Linked DNA regions of Homo sapiens: region 2 is linked to region 1. The links come from fine-mapping of genetic effects on gene expression. Tissue or cell type: whole blood. Region 1 holds a variant in brackets; the other region holds the start of a gene. All regions are shown on one strand. Distances are from middle to middle.

The links.
Region 2: it holds the start of BIN1, and the variant in region 1 is fine-mapped to the expression of BIN1 in whole blood (TOPMed, PIP above 0.99).

What each region holds. Positions count from the first base shown.
Region 1 is chr2:127,077,480-127,085,479 of GRCh38, forward strand. All of the region lies in intron 1 of BIN1 (bridging integrator 1), which reads right to left. Among named protein-coding and RNA genes, the nearest start is that of BIN1, 26 kb to the right of the region's middle. RefSeq lists enhancers at 3,526-3,755, 4,076-4,205, 4,776-4,835, 4,876-5,075, 7,548-7,687. The variant CCA/C (reference allele first, on the strand shown) is at 3,182.
Region 2 is chr2:127,102,245-127,118,417 of GRCh38, forward strand. It overlaps BIN1 (bridging integrator 1), which reads right to left and starts at 4,910. Exons shown (of 19, transcript NM_139343.3): 1 at 4,616-4,910. The coding sequence starts at 4,699. LOC105373605 (a long non-coding RNA gene) reads left to right here and starts at 4,901. Exons shown (of 4, transcript XR_923311.4): 1 at 4,901-5,571; 2 at 14,019-14,192. RefSeq lists an enhancer at 1,486-2,038 and silencers at 4,758-4,967, 4,849-5,143, 4,978-5,037.

The DNA of each region.
Region 1 (8,000 bases):
CCAGGAGAGGGGAAAGCTCTAGGAAAGGAGGGCGCTGGCCAGGACCCTGAGAACATATGCTGACCATCACGCTCTCCCAGACTTCCCTCTCTGGGCCCTGCTCCTCCAATCCCAGAGCTCCACATGACGGAGAGAGAGGTGGGAGCAGGGAGACAAAATACAGAGGCAAGGAGCGGTGGTGGGGCACGGTAGGAAAGAGCAGGAGAAGAAAAAGACAAAGAGCTGGGGCACAGAAAAGGGATGAGGAGTGCCAGATGGGTTTGCAGGAGAGCAGAGGGGAAGACCAGGGTGGCGGCGGGACACACCCGTCTGCAGCCAAAGAGGCACCTCCATCAGGGCGGCAGAAAGGCCAACACTGATGTCTCAGCAGAGGCCTCTCCCAGGCAGTGGGCAAGACCTCACAAGAATGAGAAGGAAACGGGGGTAGGGGATGGGAGTGGAAAGCAAAGGGAGAAAAAGGTGGGCCCAGGAGCGGTGGGGAGCCCCAGGAGCAAAGGGCCAGCCCAGCATCTGCTGAGGCCAGTAGGTCTGCAGACATCCCTCCCTTCCAAGACCCGGAGCCAGCCCATGCTGCCAGGAACATCAGCTTTGGGGCCCAGGGCCCAGGCCACGGTCCTGGACCAACGGATGCCTGGTACCAGGACACAGCCAGGACCCTTCCCACCCTGCCGGCCCTTGCAGGTCCTGTGCTGCCCTGCTGCACTTCCCCCCCCAGCCAGGCCCAGAAGCCTTGGCAAGGCCAGCTGCTCTTGGCCATCTCTCACCAAGCACTTGCTCTGTGCCTGGCCTTGGGCACCTTGGCCGGTACAGCAGAGAGGAATCAGATGTGGGTCTCTGTCCTGACATGGGGGAACACTTAAGGCTGTGGGACCCTGGGGGTAGAGATCTCTTCTAGCCTGGGCAGTCAGTGAGACTTCCTGGAGTGGGTGGCAGCTCAGACAGAGGGGAGAGGTTGCAACAAAGGTAAGGAGACCAGAAAGATGGAGCATCTTACTGGGGAGTTTTGAATTGCTCAAGGTGACTAGAGGTCACAGAGGATGGAGTGGGAAAGTGAGAGTGGCAGCAGGGGGCAGGTGGGCACCGGGAGGCAGCCACCGATGATGTTGTGCTACAGCGGTCGGGACACAGCCCCTTGGGCAACTGCAGCTGGATGCCAAGGGCTGACACAGGGATGAGAGAAAAACCAAAACAAAACCCCCACATGAGCAAGAAAATGTACACTGCACAACTTGCAGGCTCCCCACTGCTGCCCCTCCCTGGCAGCCACATCCAGAAGGGACCCCCCAGAAAGTGGGCTGAGCTGGGGAGGTTCCTCACCCGGCTCTGCAAAGAGCTTGGGTAGGTGACTCAGCCCCTCTGCTCAGGCACCCACCCCACAGCCCCACCCCCTCCAAAGAGAGGAATAGACCACCACATAGAAAAGAACTCCCAGAAGTCTACCAGAGCCACCAGAGAGAGCCAGAAGCTCTCAGAAACAGGGCAGGGACTGCCCAGCTCCCAAGGCAAGAGCACCAGGAAGGATGCCCCTTCCACGCCCTGCCCTCCCTCTCCCCAGGAAGACAGACACACTCAGCCAGCAAAAGGTCCCCAGTCTTCCCCACCCACACTGGCCACCAGGGCTCCTGAGGTGTACAGAGACAGACACACACTCGACCCAGTTCCCAAACACTGCTGTGTGCTCTGCACAGACAGCTGGAGAACTGGGGAGATCTTCCAGCCTTGAGAACGAGACACCAGCCCAGGTGAGACTCCACGCAGCAGTGAGAAGACCCTTGGGAAAAGGGACAGCTACTCTCTGAGCCTCAATCTACAAAATGAAGTGAACACTGGCACCCTCCTCAAGGATTACAAAGATCATGTCTATAAAGTGCAGAGCAGTACCTGGCCCATGATATTCAAGAAATGGCAAATCCCTAAAAGGCCTTCAGAGCAGCCTTCACACAGGTGGGGGATGGGCCTGACTGACACCGCCAGCCCTCACACCGGGTCCAGGCTGACGGCATCCCAAGATGTGAGACAGAAGTCACAGACGCGCACACTCTACCTGCACATGGCAAACTCCTATGCATCCTTCAAAACCTCACTCAGGTGACATCACTGTGAACTGTCCCTGATCTCTCCTTTCCTCAAAACACTCTGTACCACTTAGAGCTTTCCTCACTGCTATGTGATGTGCCTGTGTGCCTCACACCCTCACCCTGAAGGAACAGCTTGAGGTCAGGGACACTGTTCCAGTCATCTCTGTGTCCCCAACACCCACACAGGGCTAAGCACAGGACAGACACACAAGATATTCTCAGCGGCTGCTGCTCATCTGAGCTGTGGGCTTTGAGGGCAGAGACATGACCCTAAACAAAACAACCCACCTCTCAGCCTCAGGCTCCTCCCAGACAAAATGGAAGGGTAATGTACAGAAAGCCCTCAGCCCTGAGGGGTGACAGCAAGCCTGAGGCTGAGCCAGTCTCCCCACTCTGCGAGACCTCAGGCTGCTGAAGCTCTCAGTGCTCCAGTGCCCCCGCCTTGGAAATGGGAGGAATAACAAGGCCACAGCATGGCCGAGGCCCAGGGAAGACCCATGGGCGAGGCTGGCCTTGGCCACATGCCATCCTCACTGCACCTACCCCCATTTCATCCATGAGGGAACGCAGGCAAGTGGCCTGGGGTCCCCATCCTCAAGGAGCTCCTGGTGTGGCTACCACAGGGAAAAACAATCTGGGCACCCCCTGCCCCAGAACAGGAGCTGGGACAAGGCCGTGAGCCCTGGGACACAGATCTCCCACCCCATCCGTTCCACACTTGGTTAGTGGGGCCTCCCCTGTGCCGAGCTCACAGGCAGACCACTGAGGGACACAGGGGACTCCAGGTGTCCAGGAGGGGCTGGCCCAGCAGCGACTAAGGAAAGCTGGGCAGGACAGTTGTGCTGGGTTTTGAAGGATGAGCAGGAGTTGGGTGAGGAGGAGGGTCTGGCGGCACAGGCCAGGATTTGCACTCTGTCCAGGGTTACTGGGTGAGGGCCCCTTAGACAATCAGTTCCACCTACACTCATCACACACTTATCACGCACACTCACTCTGTGATAAACAAAGGGGAGCCTTTGAAAACTTGGCGGCGGACGAGACACACAGAGGCCCAGGCGGCAGAGGCAGCCACAGAGCCAACAGTCCCAGGAGCTTTATCAGTG[CCA/C]CACCCAATCACCTCCTATCAGAGCTTCCTCTCACCATGTCCTCAACCCAAGGCCAGATGTGAGTGGAGCTGAAGTGCCTTGGAGGGGACACCCCAGGGCAGGGCAGGGAGGGGGGGCAGGTGGCAGGAATGACAAAGTGTGAACCCGTGGCCAGCTCCAGAACCTCCTCCTGCAATCATCCACAGGGTTCAGCCTCGCTGGGCCTCGGCTGTGGAAGGAAACCCTCCCAAGGCTCCTCCCTAGAAAGGCTGGGTGGTTCACTGAGTTGACGCCATGCCTCCGGCACCCGGGTCCACAGGGGCTCAGTGGGAGCATCCCGTGGGTGGGTGCCCCTCCCCAGCCCTCCGCCAAGGCCTTTGTCATGGCCCAGTGAGAGGGCAGAAGGCCCTGGCGTCAGCCGCTCCCTGTGGGTACAGGGAGTCCTGCCACCCTCCAACAGCCCCCGCATGGCAGGCAAGGCCCTGACCCACAGCGTGAGTCATGGGGCACAGGCAGTGCACGGCCACCGAACCCAGAAGGAGGAAGGGTGCCCAGGCCTGTCTTGTTTGAGCCAGGAGCAGCTCACCACGTACAGCACCCACCCACCATGCACGCACTTCAAGTCACCAGGGCCGCCTCCTCAGAAGGGAAGTGTCCTTATGTGACAGATGGCAGGTGAGCACAAACAAATCAGGACACAGCCTGACACCGTCCAGTCAGGAGGGGCCAGGAGCTCTAGCCGCCACAGTGAGGAGGGCCGGGTCTTCGGGCTCACCCGGCTGGGCCCCAGCAGCCCCTCCTGGGGTCTCTGATCCCTCCCTCGGCCCCAGAGACCAGTGGGCCTGCTGCACTTGCGGGACACACACCCACAGTCTGAATGGCATGGCCCAGGGCAGGGATAAGCACTTCCCAAGGCCATCAGAAGGACCAGCCCAGGGGCCCAGGAGGGAAGCCTAAGGAAGGAGGGGTGAGGGCCGCGTTCCCAGTCACTCTGGTCCTGGCCAGGGCCAGGCAGAAAGCTAGGGGCTCCTCCACCAGCCAGCGGCACCCCTCGTCCCTGCAGTGGCAGCAGAGTTCCCAACACCCCACCCCCACACACACATGGAAGGGGGACCTCATCCAGCAAATCTCCCTCCCAGGCACCCACCACCCAGCTGCTGAGACCCCAGAAAACGCATAAGGCCCTCACCTTCCGCATCATCTCCTCCCCACCTGCCTGCACAGGAAGGGCGGGCTGAGAAGTGAGCCCTGTCTCGCCCCTTCCTCCCAGCAGAGCCTGCGGTCGGGGGCCACGGAGGCAGGATGCACACCCTCGTGCCCCGGCGTTCTCACACCGAGGCTCCCCAGGCAGGCAGACACAGACAGAGGACAGGCAGGCGGGCAGGGGGAAGGCCACTGTCAGACACCCGGCCAGGCTTTCTCTGGGCCCAGTCCCGAGGGAGACACCCCAAGAGGCGAAAGGGAGGAGGGCCCCTAGAACAGGACAAAGGCGAGCCTTCTCCCCACCCCCGCCCCCCACCTCTGGGTCCAGGCTCGCTCACTGACTCCCGGGGGCTGTCCCTCTGTCAATCTTTCCTTGCCCCTCCTCCTCCGTCGTCTCCCACACACAGCTCGGGTCAGCCAAGCTGGGGAGCTGTGGATGATGACACAGGGCTGGCCTCGGGGATCTTTCCGCCCTCATGCTCCAGGGGCCCCTGCAGGGGAGACAGAGGGCAGGATGGCCAGCTGAAGGCCTCCGTGGTCACAAGCTCTGAGGCCTTGCAGGCACTCAGCTGGGGATACCAGGGACATCGCAGGACAAGTCTGCACCGAGACCAGGGTTGGCGTGGGCAGGCCATGGTGGGCGCCCAGGCAGGGGAAGGGGTACAAGGCCCTCTGCCTCCCCTCTCCTGCCCCAAGATGCTGCCTGCTGTCTGACACATCAGGCTGGGGTGGCAGTGGTGAAAGGGGTACAATGGGAGTCTTAAACCCCCAGGGGCAGAGGGAGCCAGTCTGAGGACAGTCCCGCAGATCCCATAGTCACCTAGTTCCCCAGCACACAACCCCTCCTCCAAGCCCATCTCTCAAATGCGAGCTGTCCCTGCAACCAGACACACAGGACCCCTCTCCCGGCTGCTGCTCACACCTCCCCATCCCCACTCCGACAGTGGAGCCACCTAAGCCTGCTCCCCACCTCTGGGTGGAGAGTCTCGGTGGCCTCCAACAATCTAGGTGCCATGCAGGAGGCCACAGCAGCCCTGACGAGAGAGCAGAGGGAGGAAAAGAGGTTCTAAGCCCACCACTCACCTCCACATTTCATGTGGCCCTCTCACCTCCTTATTTTCAAAGTATAAACCTCAAAGAAAGTGGAAAGGATACTACAGGGACTATCATCTACCCTTCACCCAGATTCACCAATCAACTGTTACCACTTGGCCACACTCATTTGCTTTTTTCTTTTTTTTTTTTTCTTTTTTTTTGCTTTTCTCTTTTCTTGCTATGTCGTCCAAGCTAGAGTACATGGCGCAATCATGGCTCACAGTAGCCTAGACTTTCTGAGCTTAAACGATCCGCCCACCTCAGCGTCCCGAGTAGCTGGGACTACAGGCCACTGCACCTAGCTAGTATTTTTACTTTTTGTAGAGACAGGGCCTCGCTATGTTGCCCAGTTTTGTCTGGAACTCCTAGCCTCAAGTGATCCTCCCACCTCAGCACCCTCAAGGTGCTGGGATTGCAGGTACAAGCCACCGTGCCCAGTCACTTTTCTCTATATATAAACCGTTCCTGCATTTGTATGTTTGCCCAGCCAACAGAAGGTAAGCAGCAGAAGGGTCACTGGGATGACCTTCGCTCCACAATACTTCACCCCTAAATACTCCAACAGATTTCCTAAGAACAAGAACATGCTCCAAAATGCCCATGATACCATAAGCACCCCCAATACATCCAAAATGTATTTTAAAATACCATCTACCACACGGTCCGCATTCAAATATCCTTGGGTGCCCCCCAAATGCCCTTTATGTCTGGGTCTAGGATCCAACTGTGGTTCACATATTGCTTCTGATTGTCGGGTCTCTTGTTCCTTTAGTCCAGAATATTCCCCGTATGCCTATTTATCAATGTTATCCATTTTTTTTCTTTCGTGATACTGGTATCTTTTTAAGAGTGCAAACCAATCACTTGGAGAATGCCCCACACTCTGGATCCATCTGATTGTTTCCTTGTGAGGAAGTTCAGGTTAAAGGCTGCTTTGGCAAGAGTCCTGCAGAGGGAGGCTGAGCCTTCCCACCGCACCACAGCTGTGTTAGGCTTGACCGCCGGGTCTGAGTCGTGTTTGCCAGATCTCTTGGAAAGGAAGGTCACTTTTCTCTTAGTCATCTGCAGGACAATCACGGTCACTGTGGCAAGGCAAAAAGTTGTTGAAATTTTTGCACAGTGCCTTTACTATCCATCATTCTTTGCTATTCAGTGTGAGGTCTGTGGGCAGCTGCATGACAGTCTTCCAAGAGCCTGGAGGAGAAAAAAAACTGCAGACCTGCTGAACCAGAGTGTTCCCTTTAACAAGTCCCCCTGGCGCACCGTATGCGCAGTGAAGTCTGAGAAGCACTGCAATAGCATCTTGGCTGGAACCCGCTGTTACCCAATCTCCTCCACGTGACCCGGCATTCCACAAACACGAGCCTCCCCTGGTCTTGCCTTTGCGAGGAGGGTGGTGAGGATATCGTGAGTCCTTCGTTTTGCGTTCGTGATTCATTTTGATGCTCAAACATCCCAAGTGCGACCAGTGGGAGGTTTCGGACACGTCCTCATTCATCTCCAGGCGCTTCCTTACTTTCTGGCACTAGCAGATTCTCCAGGCTCAGCCTGCACTGTCCCTGCCCCAGCCCTGGCATCAGCCATTTCTCCAAGGAACCCTGATTTCCTTCGGTGGAGAGGCATGCTCATTGCTCTTAGGCATTTCAGCGTTCCCTCATGCTCAGAGCCGCAGATTATTACCCCTGCTTTAGAGATAAGAAAGGAAAGGCTGCGGCACTGAAGGATTTGGCTCTGCAGCGAAGAAGCGACCGAGCTCAGATTCTGTGGCTTTGTGGTGGTGGTGAACAAGCATCATCACTCAGGTCTGTCTGCTTCAAGAAGTGAGAAAGGAGACAGACCCATGGCCTAGCAGCTGCCCTCTGAGCCCATTGCAGTGTTCCTTAGGAGGCCACACTGACTGTGGGCTGTGGCACCTGCCCCAGGCTGGTGACTGCACAAGGGGCAGCTTCCTGGTCTCATCCAGCCCAGGGAAACTCTCTTCCTCCTCAGAACCCAGTGAAGTCACACGTACAGAGGCGTCTTCAGAGCAGCAGTGCTTAACCCAGAAGCTAGCAGTCTCCTGGTGACGATTGAGGCCTTGTTCTCCCTCCATCCCCCGCCCCGCCCCACCCCAGAGCTGCTGCTTCACCCTCAGGTTGGGAGGGGAGGGCACCCAGACCTGCAGCCAAGGACAGAGGGGCTAGAATGAGGGTCCCAGACTCCTTGGGAAAGCTACGGGCAGCTGGGCCCCTTGCAGCAGCCCCAGCTGTGGCTGCAAAGGGGAGAAGTGGCCCAGGTTCCTGCTGGAGAGCAGAGCCCAGGGGCACCGGGAAGTGAGTCCCAGGAAGCAAGCCCAGAACACACAGCACACTTCTTAGCGGCTAGCCACCCTTCAGGCTATGCCTTCCAACTTCTCAAAGGCACAATGACTTTAAAGATAAGTGCATTCCATCTGGAGGCAAGAACGCTCCCCAGCCCTCAGGGCCCCACACAGCAGCACAAGCTCGGCCATGTACATGCAGCAAGCACCTCCAGTGTGAGATGACGCCCACACACGCTC
Region 2 (16,173 bases), 29 kb after region 1:
ACAGTCACACAGCTTGTAAGGGACCAGCTGGGCTGGACGCTGAGTCCAGGGACAAGGACCTGGTCAGATGCCAGTGAGAAGGGAGCCCCGATGTGGTGATCTTGAAGAGGGCGCAGAGAGTTCAAGCCTCAGCTTCTCCAAGAATCCTTGCGATCCATAGATCTTCCTGGCCTTCACAACTTCATGAAATATGGAGGGAATCTACCACCCAGGCACCCCTTCTCTTCAGAGAGCTGGCATCCTCAATGTCCTCACACCTCTCTCCACACCTTGGACCATGCCTGCACCTCCTGGAATGCCTTCTCCTTCCCCATGCCCCATGCAGCCTCCCAAGTAGGCTGTGCCTGGACAAGTAGCCTGTGCCTGGCTTGGTCCCTGCATGAGCCAGAAGGCTGTACTCAGGCCATCCAGGGCCCCTGGGGGATTGGGGAAGTCTGGAAGCCATGCTTCCAACCTCCCATGCCCACACGCCTTTACCGAACACCCAAGAACCCACACACACCTGGGCCCACCCACAGAAGATGCCCAGCTCAGAAGCCTTCCCTGCAGGGTGAGATGAACCATCTACATAAGTAACTCGGGTCCAGGGGAAGCTGAGACTGGAGAGATACAGGAAGAGCCTGAACAGGTTCAGAGGGAAGAGGCCCAGAGCAGGGAGGTACAGACAGAGACAGAGAAAAAGACAAGACAGTAGCCGGCAGGGAAGAACCTCAGACATTCAAGGACAGAAGGACAGAGATGGGCCCCAAGATGGACAGAGATGGGAATGTGGGTAGAGGGGGGCATCTTTGTGCTAGGGCCTGGGAAGGGGGCGGGACCCCTGCAAAGTCAGTGGCCAAGGTGAGGAGACCAGGGCCTCTGGGTGGGCTCCCAGTGCCATCACTGAGGGCCTGGGTGACTTGGGCAGGTGGCTGGGCCTGCCTATGCCCCCATTGTCCTTTCTATTACAGGGACCATGCACCCACTCTCAGGTGTAGCATTGCTGCTTCTGAGGTTGCTGCAAATATAACGCTTGGTGTACAGGCCTGGCTCCTCCGGAGGAGGCTAAGGTGGCTACTGCGTGAGGAGACCTTGACCACGCAGCTGAGCATAGTGCAATTCATGGCCATGCATCAAGGCTCTAGGAATCGCCACCACTGCACCTTCCTTTAGCGAGCCTCTTCTCGGCATGTCAGCGCTGTGCTGGGCACTGACAACCCTGGGCCCTCCCTCTGCCCAGCTGGCCCTCCCCACTATCCAGCCTGCACCCCTCCAGCATGCTCAGGACCTGCCGGGAGGGAGGGACAGCATGCACACTCCCACCCTGCCAGAGCCTTCCTCCTGTGCTCACTGTCAGCCCAGCGTGGTCAGAGAAAGGCCCAGCTCCGTCAGGCCGGCTCCATGAGGACTCCCAAGCCGTGGGCCTTCAGGGGCCAGCAGGCCAGATCCCCACCCCCTCAGCTGTCCTTCTCCCCAGGCGCCCCATCCCGCGAGGGGCCCAGCCTGCCAACCTCTAATCCTCCCCGTCATCTGACCCAGGCTCCACCCTACACTGGCTTTGCCTAGCCACTCTTCTGAGGCCCAAAAATGGACACAATCATTTATAGAGGGTTCGACAAGCCAAACGCAATGGGAAGATGACCTCACGGCGCCCACAGGCTCAAGCTCCCAGCACACACAGTGCACCCCACGCATTCCGGGGGCAGTGGCCAGGGGGCCAGGAGCAATGGTGCCATGCTGGAGGCCCTGGCAACCCTTCCAATTTATTCTCATACCCTCCTCACACCAAGGCCACAGGCCATGGGACCTTCAAGAAAAAGCTCCAGACAGGCCAGACACATGCACCCTGCCTGAGACAGCATCGGGGACTCAGCCCAGGAGGCACTGGGCCTGTGTCCAGGCAGGATTTGATGAATGAGTGATGGCAGAGAACAAACAACACAAATCAATCCACCATCAGCCTGCGTCAGGCCCAAATCCCTTGTTCAAAAACATTCACTAAGCACCGACTGGGGCCAGGTAACATCCTCAATGCACACACCTGGATGTGCCCTGCCGTGCCCTCAGGGATCAGCCAGACCAGTGGTGGAGGCAGAAGGGTCAACAGGTAACAACAGTCAAAAAAGAGCTGGCTTGGGGACCCTACAAGAGTGCAGGCTGCCCTTGACCACACTGTCACCCTCACAGTCTGGATGTTTGTTTGGGCTGGAAGTGGATGTGGGAAGGCCGGGGGTGAAGGGTGGATGCAAGATACGGGCCCTTCTTCCTACGCCAGGACGCCAGGACTCTCCCAGCCTCCCAGCACAGCTCCTGCCATCCTTGCTCAGGAAACGCCTTCCTGTAGCCACAGGGAAACTGGAATTGCCCTATTACCCACTGATTTCACCAAGGCAAGGTAGGTATAGTGGTGGGGCTGCCTGTAAGAGACTAGGATTCCAGTTTCATTGACAGTGGGAGTTAGAGGCGGCACTGATCACCAACAGAAGACACTGAGGATGACCCTCCAATGATGGCACAGACTCTACAGGAAGGCACACAGCAGAGGCTGCTGTGGGTTGAGGCATGGGGCTTCCTGCGAGCAGGGCCTGCAACCCAAAGGGAGGGGAAGGCTACTTTCAGAGACCTGGCCTGGATGCCTGTCATGATGGTCATGCTGCCTTGGTTTCTGATGGGGGGAGGGTCCCTAACTAGTCTCCGGCAGGCAGAGAGCAGCTGGAACACTAAACAACTCCAGTCCCAGGAAGCCCGGCATGGGCAAGGTCAGCTGTTGGCCAAGACCAGCATGCCTAGCTGACCAACTGTCAGCCAACTGCCCGTGGCCACAGAACAGGGGCTCAAGAGAGAGGGATGGTGTCTCAGGAGCTCAGTGATACATCACCACCTCCTTGGAGGGGACACAGCCCTTGCCTACTGCCCCGAGAATGACATCAAAGATGCTGCTGCAGAGAAAAGACAACCAGGGCAAAGGAGACACACCAAGAGCCTTGGGGAGCCAGGAAGGGGTGGGACACCAGTGGGAAGGGGGCAGGGAACACAGCTCAGCTAACCTCCCTTCCCATTCATCTCCCTGGCCCTTTAGGGAAGGAAGCAGGCTCTGGCCCAGGGCTGCCTGCTCCAGGCACACAGATGGATTACCCAGTCATGGCAGCCCGGAGCAGGGGTGGCTGCATCTGTGCTGCCACCCCCCCACCCCACAACCTGAAGTCTTCCCAGCCCCCAGCCAGCTATTCCTGGGGCTTTAATCCCTCCTCCTCCTCCTCCTCCTCCTCCTCCTCCTCCTTCCCTGGGGTGGGGGGTTGGGGAGCTGGGTCTGGGCAAACCTGGACTTGGCTGAGGGCCCTTCCTTCAATGCACACCCACCCACCTCCTTAGCCAGGAAACACAGGGATGAGCAGTAGGACTCTGAGGGAGGTATGGGGAAGCTCTAGGCGCCCCCCTCTCCCCCATCCCCCAGCAATCACGTGGTTGCATCCTTAGGGAGCCCGCGGGTCTCAGAAGCAAAAGTCATTGTTTATAAACAGCCACCAGGCCTGGCAGGGGAAGGCCGGCCTGTCCCTGCGCCTCCACCCGGCGGCCGCGCAGCGGGTGGGAGAGGGGGCAGGCCTGGCCGCGGGGCACTGGGGGGCCACCCTGGCAGAAACACAGATTCTGCAATCTCAGATTTCAGAGTTGGAGTCGTCAGGGGAAGTGGCGTCAGCAGCTGGCGTGATCCAATTCAATAAACCAGAGGTGGCTTGGGATAGACAACTGACCGGGTGCAGACCCCCGCCCCTCAATCTCTGCATTTCCTGCACGCTCTGGGCACCCTGGGAGGCCCCGGCTCCATCCCCCATTCCAGCTCTCCGCGAGGAGGGGTCGGGTTTCCTGTGGCGCCTTCCACGCGCCTCCTCCAGGCCAGCTCCCCACCCGGCCGTGGGCTCCCAAAGCCAGTGCCGCCACCCGCTCCCCGGCCGCCGGAAACGCTAAGCCCCTGCTGGGGCGAGGGCACCTCCTTGCGGGGTGCGTAGCCCTGGGCTCCCGGTGGGGCCGGGCTGGGCGGGAGCTTCCAGGCCGCAGGCACCTCTCGGGAAAGGAAACCCAATCCCTCCTTCGGCCCACGGAGAACGAAAGTGGAGAAGCAGTGGGAAGGAAGGAACTGTGGGTGCCGGTTCGAGAAGCAGCCTTGGGAGTCCGGGGGAATAGTGTCCCCAGGGGCAGAGGGACATACTCCCTCTCGCCCCGAGCGCCGGCCCAGCCTAGGTTGCCTGCATGGGCCTGGAGAGCTGAGGGTCACCACCTGGCCTCCCAGCCTCCCGGCCCTTGGCCTCCAAAGCGGGGTAGCCTGGAGCGCGCGCCTGAGAAGAGCCTGGAGCAGGGCCGGCCACTGCTGTGCAGCCGAGCCACGAAGGTGCAAAGCGGGGCCCTGTCCTGCCCCGGCCGGGTGTGGGGAGACAGAGGACGCAAACCTAAGAGGGCACCCAGAGCGCCGGGGAACGCAGCCTGGGGACCTCGAAGCCCCTCGAAAGCGCTCCTCTAGAGGTGACAGCACCAGATCCTGGCGAAGGACCAGGCCCCGGGGTCGGAGGATAGGGGGACAGGTGGCCGGGGCTCCGCGGCGGCTGGGACTCCGCGGCTGCTGGGGCTCCGGCTCGCTCACCTTCTCCTGCGCGCGGGTGAGCTTCTTCTGCACGTTGCTGGCGATCTTTCCCGCCGTCACCCCTTTACTGCCCATCTCTGCCATCGCGGCGCAGGCCTCGCCCGGTGGCAGGGGCCGCTCTCGCGCGGGGAGATCTTGCGCGCCGCGCTCCCAGCCCCCAGCCCCGGCCGCGCGTCCAGACCGGCTGCCGCTCCACGCCGCGCACCCGACAGCGGAGCCAACTGACGGAGGCGGAGCGTGCGCCGGACGGGCGAGCGAGCCAGCGAGCTAGCCAGCGAGCGACGCGGGGACAGAGGGAGGGAGAGGGGAGGGGCCGGGCCTCAGGCCGCGGTCGGCGCCCCCCGCCCGCCCCCTCCGGACAATAAGCTGCCTTTTAAAGGGCCACTCCGGGCGCCGGCACCGCCAGGTCCGCGAGGAGGGAGGGGCGCGCGCGGCGCTGGGGCTGCGGCGAGCGGGACTCCCCTGACGCTCCAGCTGCACCGCCCCGGGGCGGGGACTAATCCGCCGGCCTGGCGTCTTGGTCTTCCCCGCAAGCAGTAATCTCCTGCAACCCAGGAAAGGAGACTAGGTGGAGGAGAGGAGTGCTTTCGAAATCAAAGAGAAAGTGCGGCGAAGGGGGCGCGGCCCTGAACAGAGGAGCCGCGGCTGCTGGGAGAACGCGCCCGGAGCCCCCTCCTTTTCCAGGGGCTCACCTCCCGCCCGGTGCCCGGTGCCCGGTGCCCGACGCTCCGCCTCCTCCCAGCCTTCGGCCCTCGGGTTTTCGCCCGGATACCCTAGGCGCCTCCGGGACATCTCCACATCTTTGCCTACGGCGCCTAGCCCAGTACCAACCGGTGCTTGGTCTTCCCGTTCGCTAAAAATTTATTATAATAACAACAACCTAGCATTACTGAGTGCTTACTGTGTACTAAGTGACTTGACAGGCATTATTTCATTCGGTCTCCGTGGCCCTAGAGGTAGGTGCTATTACTGTTCCTACTTTACAACCAACGCGCCGGGATCGAGGAACGAGATCTCTGCCTCTGTCTCCCAGGTGCTCCACCACCATACGCCGGGTTGTCTCCTACCCCCAGCAGGAAGGAATGATTAGTGATCATTATTCCTGGAGAAGATAAGGTTATTGCTAACCAGCTTTGCCAATAGACCAATGACACTTCTTTTAAGTTAATAAATACGTATTGAGTCTGCTGATACCCACCCCCATTCAGCCCTAAAACATGTCAGGGGCTACAGCACTTTGCTGCCCCTGGAAATTTCTAAAGAACTGTTGATTGAGTTGAGCAGAGAGATAGGTCCCGCTGAAGAGGCCTAGACGTGTCTGGTGCACACACAGGAGCCAGGGCTATGGCCTGCAGGACCCGCAGCGGTCAGAGGAGCAGAGCTGGCCAGGGACAGAGGTCCCTGAGAGGCTTCCTGGAGGAACAGGAAGGGCTCTTGCAGACCACAAACCAAGCAGTTTGTACAAATGGAGAAATCGAGTCCCAGGAATGAGAGGTTCAGCCTGGGTTCACACAGGCCATTCCCTCTTCCCTGGAAGGCCCTCCTGCTCTTTCTCCGGCTACTCGGGGTTCTTCCACCACCGCTCAGTGCTGCCCCATGGCCCAGTGTGTTCGTCTGTCCTCTTCCGGGCCTATTATCATGATGTCCCTCGGTATCCCCCAGGGGACTGGTTCCAGCACATCCGTGGATACCAAAATCCAGGGATGCTCAAGTCCCTCATATGAATTGACACAGTATCTGCATATAGCGTACACAAATCCTCCAAAATACTTTAAATTATCTCTAGATTCTTGTAATAGCTAATACAATTTAAATACTATGTAAATAGTTGTTAACGCTGTATTTTTTATTTATTTATTTATTTATTTTTAGACAGAGTCTCACTCTGTCGCCAGTCTGGGGTGCAGTGGCGCAATCTGGGCTCACTGCAACCTCTGCCTCCCGGGTTCAAGTGATTCTCCTGCCTCAGCCCCCCGAGCAGCTGGGACTACAGGCACGTGCCACCATGCCCAGCTAATTTTTGTATTTTTAGTAGAGACGGAGTTTCACCATGTTGGCCAAGATGGTCTCCATCTCCTGACCTCGTGATCCTCCCGCCTTGGCCTCCCAAAGTGCTGGGATTATAGGTGTGAGCCACCGTGCCCGGCCTTGTTTTTTATTTATATTATTTTATTGTTGTAGTCTTACTTTTTATTGTATTTTTCCAAATATTTTCAGTCCACAGTTGGTTGGATCCATGGATGCCCAACCCACAGATGCAGAGGGCTGACTGTATTCTTATTCTGCAGGAAGACAGACTGAGGCGCCGCTGATGTAGGTCACACAGACAGCAAATGATAAGCAGAGATTCTGCATCAAGCCTTCCTGCACCAATGCCCTCAAAAGCACCAAGCGCTGCATGAGTGAAAAGCATCTGTCAAAATTATTATAAACTCATGCCCGATTTGTGAGTCACAAAAGCAAAACCTACACAGTCTGGGCTTCTAAAGCAGCTTCCTCCTAAAAGCTCAACATGCTTTCAGCTCATGATCTCCTTCCTCCTCATTTTCTGTTGGTCGTTTTTCTAACCATTCTCTAAAAGTGATTTCTTCCAACACTCCTCTGAGGAAAGGAGGAAATGAGCAAAGTCAAATTGCATTACAGTCAGCCCCCAGGGAACAGTGGGAGATTCTGCTTCACTGGACTCTGGTGTTTCTAAATATCGCTTGACAGAAAAATTGGAAGCAACGGAAGTGTTCATTAGAGGGATGGGGTCAGCTGTGACAGCACAGCCACAGGAGGGGCCATTGGGAATCATTTAAAACAACCATTACCGAGACTACGTAGCAACAAGAAAATAATGCTTAGGGCATAATTATGAAGGAAAGGAAAAGATAGGAAATTGTACTTGCAACCATATAAAAATAAATTAAAATAAATTAAAAGCTCATGATCAATGTCTTGAAAGAACAATGCATAAAGGAAGCAGATGTGTTAGGGTCCAGGCATTAAGGCTGACTTCTTTCCCCCTTAATTTCCTTAATATTCTATAATATGACATAATGCCTTGCCTATAATCCCAGCACTTTGGGAGGCCAAGGCAGGCGGATCACTTGAGGTTGGGAGTTCGAGACCAGCCTAACCAACATGGAGAAACCCTGTCTCTACTAAAAATACAAAATTAGCCGGGCGTTGTGGTGCATGCCTGTAAGCCCAGCTACTCGGAAGACTGAGGCAGGAGAATCACTTGAACCTAGGAGGCAGAGGTTGCGGTGAGCCGAGATCGCACCATTGCACTCCAGCCTAGGCAACGAGAGCAAAACTCCATCTCAAAAAAAAAAAGAATCACAGCTCTGTTTTTTTAGAGGTGATTTTTTATCAGATCGCTAGATTAAAAAGATATTTCTAAACACAAAAGCACTGGAGAATATATTGAAATTTTAAAATGCTTGCTTTGAGGTACATAAAAATTAGAATTCTTAAACTTCAGAAAATACCATAAAAACATAGGATAAAAGTTTGGGAGGAAATGATCTAAAAATGTTAGTACAAGTTCAAGGGGTAGAATGTAGATTTTTACTTTTTTCTGTATAATTTTCTATAGTATGTTATTTTTTTTTACCATGACAGCCCGTTATTTTAATTACCAGGAAAAGAGTTATTCCCATTTTGAAAATAAGTTTGACATAAAAATTAAACTGTAAGAAACTAGGGAAAATTTTTTTGGCAATAAAATAGAACTCTTACAAATTCATAAGAAAAACATTAAAACCCCAATATATAGTAGACAATTTATAAAATTGGATATTCAAATAATTAATAAATAGGTTTTCGAAAGTCAGACTTACCAGACAAAAAGAAAGGTTCATTAAATCAATGAAATACCATTTCTGTTTTCATTTTCATCAAATCAACAAATTATTTTTTAAATTATGTTACTTAATAAAACCATAGAGACAGAAACTCACATTCTACTTCTGAGAGTGTAAACAGATAACAGAATTTCTAGAAAGCAATCTTGTAATAGAATAAGAATAACCAAAATATCCATATTCTTCCACCCTATAATTCCAAGTCTATGATTTAATTCAAAAATTTGGCAAAGCTTTCACCACACAGATGTTCATCACATTATTTATAATAATGCAAAACTGAACACATCTAAATATCACCACCTGAATGCCGAATGATTAACTAAACTATAGTATGGCCATGTATGAAATGTTTACCAAAAGAATATGTTCTTGAAGTTTCTCATGATAGGGAAATGTGATGTTAACAGGATAATACAGTTTAATGTAAACAGTATCGTGCCAGCCGCGATCCAAAACGTGATTGATATCTCCAGGTGGAGCAATTCGGGGTGGGGTTTTTTTCTCCTACTTCTTTTTCTTTTTATTTTCCAAACTTTGTACATGTACTCTTTTTGTCATCAGAAAGAAGTGCTATTAAAAATACAAATTGAAATGAGGACAATGTCCCCTGGGGCAATAGTTGGGAAACCTCAGTGTGGCAGAATAGAAAGATAAAGCACACAGGCAGAGGGAGTGTGCCGTGCATCCAAACGGTGAGGGCTGGAGAAGCCATGTTTCTGTGTTTGTTTGCTTGTTTGTTTTAAATAGACTTTATTTTTATTTTTTTTTTTTTGAGACGAAGTCTCGCTCTTGTACCCCAGGCTGGAGTGCAATGGCTCGATCTCAGCTCACTGCAACCTCTGCCTCTCGGGTTCAAGTGATTCTCCTGCCTCAGCCTCCCGAGTAGCTGGGATTACAGGCGCCCAACACCACACCCAGCTAATTTTTGTATTTTTAGTAGAGATGGGGTTTCACCGTGTTGGCCAGGCTTTTAGAACACTTTTAGGTTCAGAGCAAAAGTAAGCAGAAGGTACAGAGATTTCCCATAACCTTTGCCCCACACATGCACAACCCCCCTCACTATCAACATCCCCAGCACAGTGGGACATTTGTTACAACTGAGGCACCTCCGTTGTTGCATCATTATCCCCCATAGTTCATAGTTTATGTGAGAACTCACTCTTGGCTTGTACGTTCTATGGGTCTGGGCAAGTGTACAATGGTACGTGTCTACTGTTAGAGTATCATATAGAACAGTTTCGCTGCCCTAAGAATCCTCTGTGCTCTGCCTGTTCATCCCTCCCTCCACCCCCCAGCCCCTGGCAACCACTGATCTTTTTGCTGTCTCCATAGTTTAGCCTTTTCTAGAATAAATGCCGTATTATTGGAACCATACAGTTTGTAGCCTTTTCAGACTGGCTTCTTTCACTTAGCAATATGCATCTAAGTTTCCTCCATGTCTCTTCATGGCTTGATCATTTCCTCTGGCACTGAGTAATGTTCCCTTTTCTGGATGCACCACACTTTATTTACCCACTCACCTATTGCAGAACATCTTGGTTGCTTCTGAGTTCAGGCCATTATGAATAAAGCTGCTATAAACATCCATGTGCAGGTTTTTGTGTGGACATAAGCGTTTGACTCCTTTGGGTAAATATCAAGAAGCATGATGGCTGAATCGTATGGTAACAGTGTGTTTAGTTCTGTAAGGAACTGTCAAATTCTCTTTCAAAGTGGCTGGACCATTTTGCATTCTCACCAGCAATGAATGAGAGTACCTGTTGCTCCATCCAAATCCTTGCTAGCATTTGGTGTTCCGGACTTTGGCCATTCTAATAGGTATGTAATGATATCTCATTATCATTTGGGAAATGATTTTTTTAAAACCATGAAGAACAGAGGCAAGCAAAGGACAGTCCTCCTATCCCTTGGAGAGAAAAGATCACCTGCCCCATTTTCTTCTCCAACTCAAGAATTGATTAAGAGGCTCCGAGCTAGCAATATTACTATCCTCATCATCATTCTATCTTACAAAGCAATTTTTGTTTATACTATTTTGGCTATCATAATAATCCTGCATTTGATAGAACTTTTGCTCACCTTTTATAGATGGAAACTTGGAAAAAGTAGGCTTACCTGAAGGCACTTAGCTGGTGGGTCCTGTACTGAGATCAGTTAGTACTTGGTCATCTGTGGTGTCTGGAACAGACCAGCTTTGTACCTCCCTCCTGAGACAGCCAACTTCACCTCTTACAGAGACAGGGAGGGGGCTGTCTTGCTCAGGATGCAGAAGATTCTAAGGCAGCACCAGTTATTTCAGGGCAGCGTTAAGTGTGATGTGGTATTCAGGAAGGGCTCCCTGACTCAAATTGTCCTCCATCTTTCTCACATGTAAAATGCCACCACTCTCAAGTTCCATGATATTTTGGAAAGGGCAGATAGACCTGGGTTCAGAAATCAGCTCCTCGGCTCGGTGCAGTGGCTCATGCCTGTAATCCCAGCATTTTGGGAGGCTGAGGCAGGCAGATTGCTTGAGCTCATGAGTTCAAGACCAGTCTGGGCAACATGGTGAAATCCTGTCTCTACCAAAAAATTTAAAAAATTAGCTGAGCGTGGTGGTGTGCTCCTGTAGTCCCAGCTATTTGGGAGGCTGAGATGTGAGGATTACTTGAGCCCAAGAAGCTGCAGTGAGCCAAGATTGCACCACTGCACTCCAGCATGGGTGTCAGAGCCAGACCCTGTCTCGCAAAAAAAAGAAAAAAAGAAAAGAAAAGTAATCAGCTACTCCATTTACCACTTTTCCATCCTTGGATATGTTATTCAAGCTGTTCAAGCCTCATCTATAATGTGGGGGTAAATTAACCTCTAGGTTATTGTGGAAATAGTGAACACTATATTTACAGCCCCTGGAATATCAGAAGTGACTCTGTAGATGGTGGCTATCTATAGTGGGTAGCAGATGCTATAACTGTGGTGTGCCCTGCCCATTGTCCTGCTTTCCTTTGGAGCTCCTTCTTCGGTGGGTGTGCTTTGATGAGCCCTGTCTCTTACACTGTGATGTGCACATAGCCCAGGCTTGAGGATGAGCACATGAAGTTTGGGCTCTCTTGGGAAAAGCCCAAGAAGAGCTTTCCTAGGATGCTCTATACTTGTAGGACCCATAAGTTCCCTTTTCTTCTAGACTAGCAGAGTTGGGAGGATGTGAGTCTAGAGCTACCAGATGCCAGCTTGCCCACTACATGAAAGACCTGCCTAGAAGTTGAGGTCAAGACGAGTGAAGAGACGGAGAAACAGGGACAGAGAGAAATGGAATTAATGACATTTCTTAAGAACCTGGTCCCAGTGATGCCCAAATCCTGGCCACTCCCACCACGTACTATCAGCCATAGGAACCAATACATTTTTTTCTTGCTAAAGCCAATTTGAGGCCACTTGCAAGAAGTGTTATGACTAATATACCATTATCTTTTTGTTGTTGTTGTTTGGTTTGGTTTGGTTTTTTTGAGATGGAGTCTTACTCTGTCACCCAGGCTGCAGTGCAGTGGTGCTAACCCAGCTCACTGCAACCTCTGCCTCCCAAGTTCAACTGATTCTCCCACCTCAGCCTCCCAAGCAGCTGGGATTACAGGCTCCCACCGCCATGCCTGGCTAATTTTTGTATTTTAAGTAAAGATGGGGTTTCACCATGTTGACCAGGTTGTTCTCAAACTCCCGACCACAGATGATCTGCTCGCCTTGGCCTCCCAGAGTACTGGGATTATAGGCGTGAGCCGCCGCACCCAGCCAATATACCATTATCTTAATAAAGACCTTCAGAGAGCCAACTCTAATGCATTTGTTATGCTATAGGTATCATCAAGCTAGTCTCTCCTGAGTGCCTGCACCTGACCCATCAGTATTAATATGGAGTGTCCAAACTAGGACAATTTTGAGTGAAAGGGGAAAAAAATAATTACACCTAGGTAGCAGGTGTAAGCCAGAACTGTCCTGGGCAAATGGACGTATGAGTAGGTGGTTGAAGGGGTAGGAGTTCAGAATGAAGGTTGGCAAAGAGGCTAAGGACATTGTACACTGTGCTGGGGTTGGCACCAAACACTGAGGCTTGTGCAGACTCCCCAGCCTGTCCAGCTTTCCTTGAGGCGATCCTTGCAGAGACAAAAAGACAACTCCCCACAGAACCATCTGGAAGGCCCTGTCCCTGGGCTTCTAAGGGGCCCAGATGTTTAGATCCAATTTCAGCAGACCGTGTAGGAGAGACCTGTGGAGTGAGCCAGTGAGTGGATCCCCCAACTAATTCCAGGATATTAGCAAGGCCTCCAGGAATGAGTTACTTCCTTTTGCCACCAGCAAGTGAAGTCTCCAAAAGCAAAACCTTTTTCAAGATGATCAGCTTAGCCAGGCACGGTGGCTTACACCTGTAATCCCCAGCATTCTGGGAGGCTGAGGAGGGTGGATCACCTGACATCAGGAGTTCAAGACCAGCCTGGCCAACATGGTGAAACCTGGTCTCTACTAAAAATACAAAAATTAGCTGGGTGTGGTGGTGTGCACCTGTAATCCTAGCTACTTGGGTGGCTGAGGCAGGAGAATCGCTTAAACCCCGAAGGCAGAGGTTGTAGTGAGCTGAGATCGCACCACTACATTCCAGCCTGGGAGACAGAGCAAGACTCCATCTCAGAAAAAAAAAAAAGAAAAAAGGAAAAAATCAGCTTGCTTGTGTTTGTCCTGCATGTCTTTAAACCTTGACCCCTGCGTGGTCTATGCTGTGGCTAAAAAGTAGTAGACTGAGATGCTGACGACGACACACAGGCTTTAGGCCAAAGGCCCTGGCTCCATCGGTATGAGTACTGTGGCCCTGGGCCAGTCACTGCCTGCTTCCTTTAAGTGGGGCCTTCATACTCACCAGGAAAGGCTGCCGATGAGGATTAGGGGTACCAGGCAGTCCCTGGTAGGGCTGATTGAGCTTGGTAAAGCATAGTTGCTATTATGACATAGCGGCTGTTAGTCCCTTAGTTAATCTAGTATGTGCCCGCATTGCTGGTGAGACACAGGGGGCAGACCTCTGTTGGCTCTCCAGGTGGTCAAATAAAGGTGCAGAAAAGCAAACAGCCCTTTGCCCAGCACTCCTTCTTTAATAAATCACTGCTTAGTTCCTGTAGAAGATTCCAGACTTTGGAAATACTCACTGGAAATTTACCCTAATTATCTATTTAAAAATGGCTTTCTAAACAGAGTGCTGAGATAAGATGGCCCATCTCCGTGTTTAAGCATTTCTAAAGTCTCGTTTGTTTATCAACACGCCCACAAGCTATGAAGCTACTAAGGTGACTGACCGGTTCCTTGAAACTGGGCTTCATTTACAAGTTACTAGGTGCACTTTAGGAGGGCAATTTCAGGTGTTTAACCAAAACCTGACAAACATATGCATCTGAGATTCTGTCCTTAGAATATAGTCACTAGCGCAGTCATGTCCTCACAATGAGTGAAATAGTGAAAAGTTGGACACAATCTAAATGTCCAGGCGTGGATTGTTAAATTTGCTTATTTTAAAATTTGGTTTATCCATACAGTTGATCTTTGAACAACATGAGTTTGACCTGCATGGATCCACATATACGTGAATTTCCTTCCGCCTCTACCACTCCTGAGACAGCGAGACAAACCTCTCCTCTTCCTCTTCCTCTTCCTCCTCAGCCTACTCAGTGTGAAGACCTTTATGATGATCCATGTCCACTGAATGAATAGTAAGTATATGTTCTGTTCCTTACAATTTTCTTATAACATTCTCTTTCCTCTAGCTGACTCTAGTGTAAGAATACAGTATATAATACATATACAGAATGTGTATTAATCAACTGTTTATGTTATCAGCAAGGCTTCTGATGAACAGTAGGCTATTAATAGTTAAGTTTTGTGGGGGCCAAAAGTCATGCACAGATTTTCGGCTGTGTGAGGGGTCAGTGCCCCCAATCGCCGCACTGACCAAAGGTCAATTGTATTTTGAATATTAAGCTACCGTTAAAAATTGATAAATGAGACTTCAAATTTTTTTTTCTTTTTCTTTTTTTTTTTTTTGAGACGGAGTCTCGCTCTGTCACCCAGGCTGGAGTGCAGTGGCGCGATCTTGGCTCACTGCAAGCTCCGCCTCCCAGGTTCACGCCATTTTCCTGCCTCAGCCTCCCGAGTAGCTGGGACTACAGGCGCCCGCCACCACGCCCAGCTAATTTTTTGTATTTTTAGTAGAGATGGGGTTTTTTAGTAGAGACGGGGTTTCACTGTGTTAGCCAGGATGGTCTCGATCTCCTGACCTCGTGATCCGCCCGCCTCGCCCTCTCAAAGTGCTGGGATTACATGCGTGAGCCACCGCGCCCGGCCGAGACTTCAAAATTTTTAAAGCCTGCTCTTCCAAAGACACCACTAAGAAAATGAAGAGGTAATCCACTCAGATAAAACTTTTCATGGTACAGATATCTAATGAAGGACTTGTATCCAAGAACAAATTAAGAATTGTCATAACTCAATAAGGAAAGCAATCTTTTTTTTTTAAGGCAAATGATTTGAAAAGACCCTTCACTACAGCAGATATACAAATGGCAGTAAGCATGGGAGAAAATGAGTCTTCATGAGTCTTTAGGGAAATACAAATTGAAACCACAATGAGTTAACGCCATACACTCACAAAAATGGTTATATTTAAAAGGCGACAACACCCAACGCTGGTGGGAGTGGGAGCAAATGGAGCTCTCCCCAAAGCCACTGTCCCTTATAGCAGGGTCCTCCTTCAGTCATGATGAATTTCTGCTTTTCTTTTTTCCTCCTGCACCATCTCCTACCCCAGTTCATTGTACATATCTGAAATCTGATCATGGGCCCAGCTGCTGTTGTATCCCATGAGAGTCCCTGTGACCACAAATAAATACCTGGATGGAGAGGGGCTCCCCAACTCCAGAGCCAACATGGCCACCTCAGCCTTGCCCAGACAGCCCCCCAACACCCTACGGGGCTTTGCATGTATCCTTCCTAAAGACATGGGCATACATATCTGACTTCCCCAACTCTCCTCCCCGATTTCCTCACCAGGCAACTTGGCAACCTGCCTCACCTTTACAGACACGCGCAGTTGTCACCTCCTCCAGGGAGATCTCTTTGACTCATCTCAGGTGGGGCTAAATGGCCCTCGTCTATCCTCCCCCGGGGTCCTGCGCTTGCCTTTCTCACAGACCCAGCACCCCTCCAAAACAGTCGTTCTGCAATAGTGGGGGAAAGGTGCCCTGGGACCCAATTCTTAACTCTGGCCATGAACGAGGGTACATCTACTGGGATTCCCTTTGCCTGGTGAGGATTGGAGTTGGGGGAGGAGGTTATGAAATATCCTCCTGCTCAGAGGCCACATTGAGAAGTGACAACTCCTTGTACAGAATGTGGGCTGTCTTTCAGTAGAAGTGATGCTCAGAACCGCGGCCTCCAACTGTGGCTCCTGGGGGCAGGGCTGGGCCTGCTTAGCTCTGACCCCCAGTGCCCTCCCTGAAGCTGGCCGCAGATCAGGCACCCAACAAATGTATAGACGTGGTCCACCCAACCTCAGGGAAGGGTCTCAGCACCAGCAGGGTGGGGCCCACCTGGAGCTGGGGACTCATCCTCCAAAGTCACCCACTTATCTGTCTTTTTGCTTATGTCCTGCCCTGTCACCTCGTCTCTCTCTGTTACTGACATTTGGCATGGGTG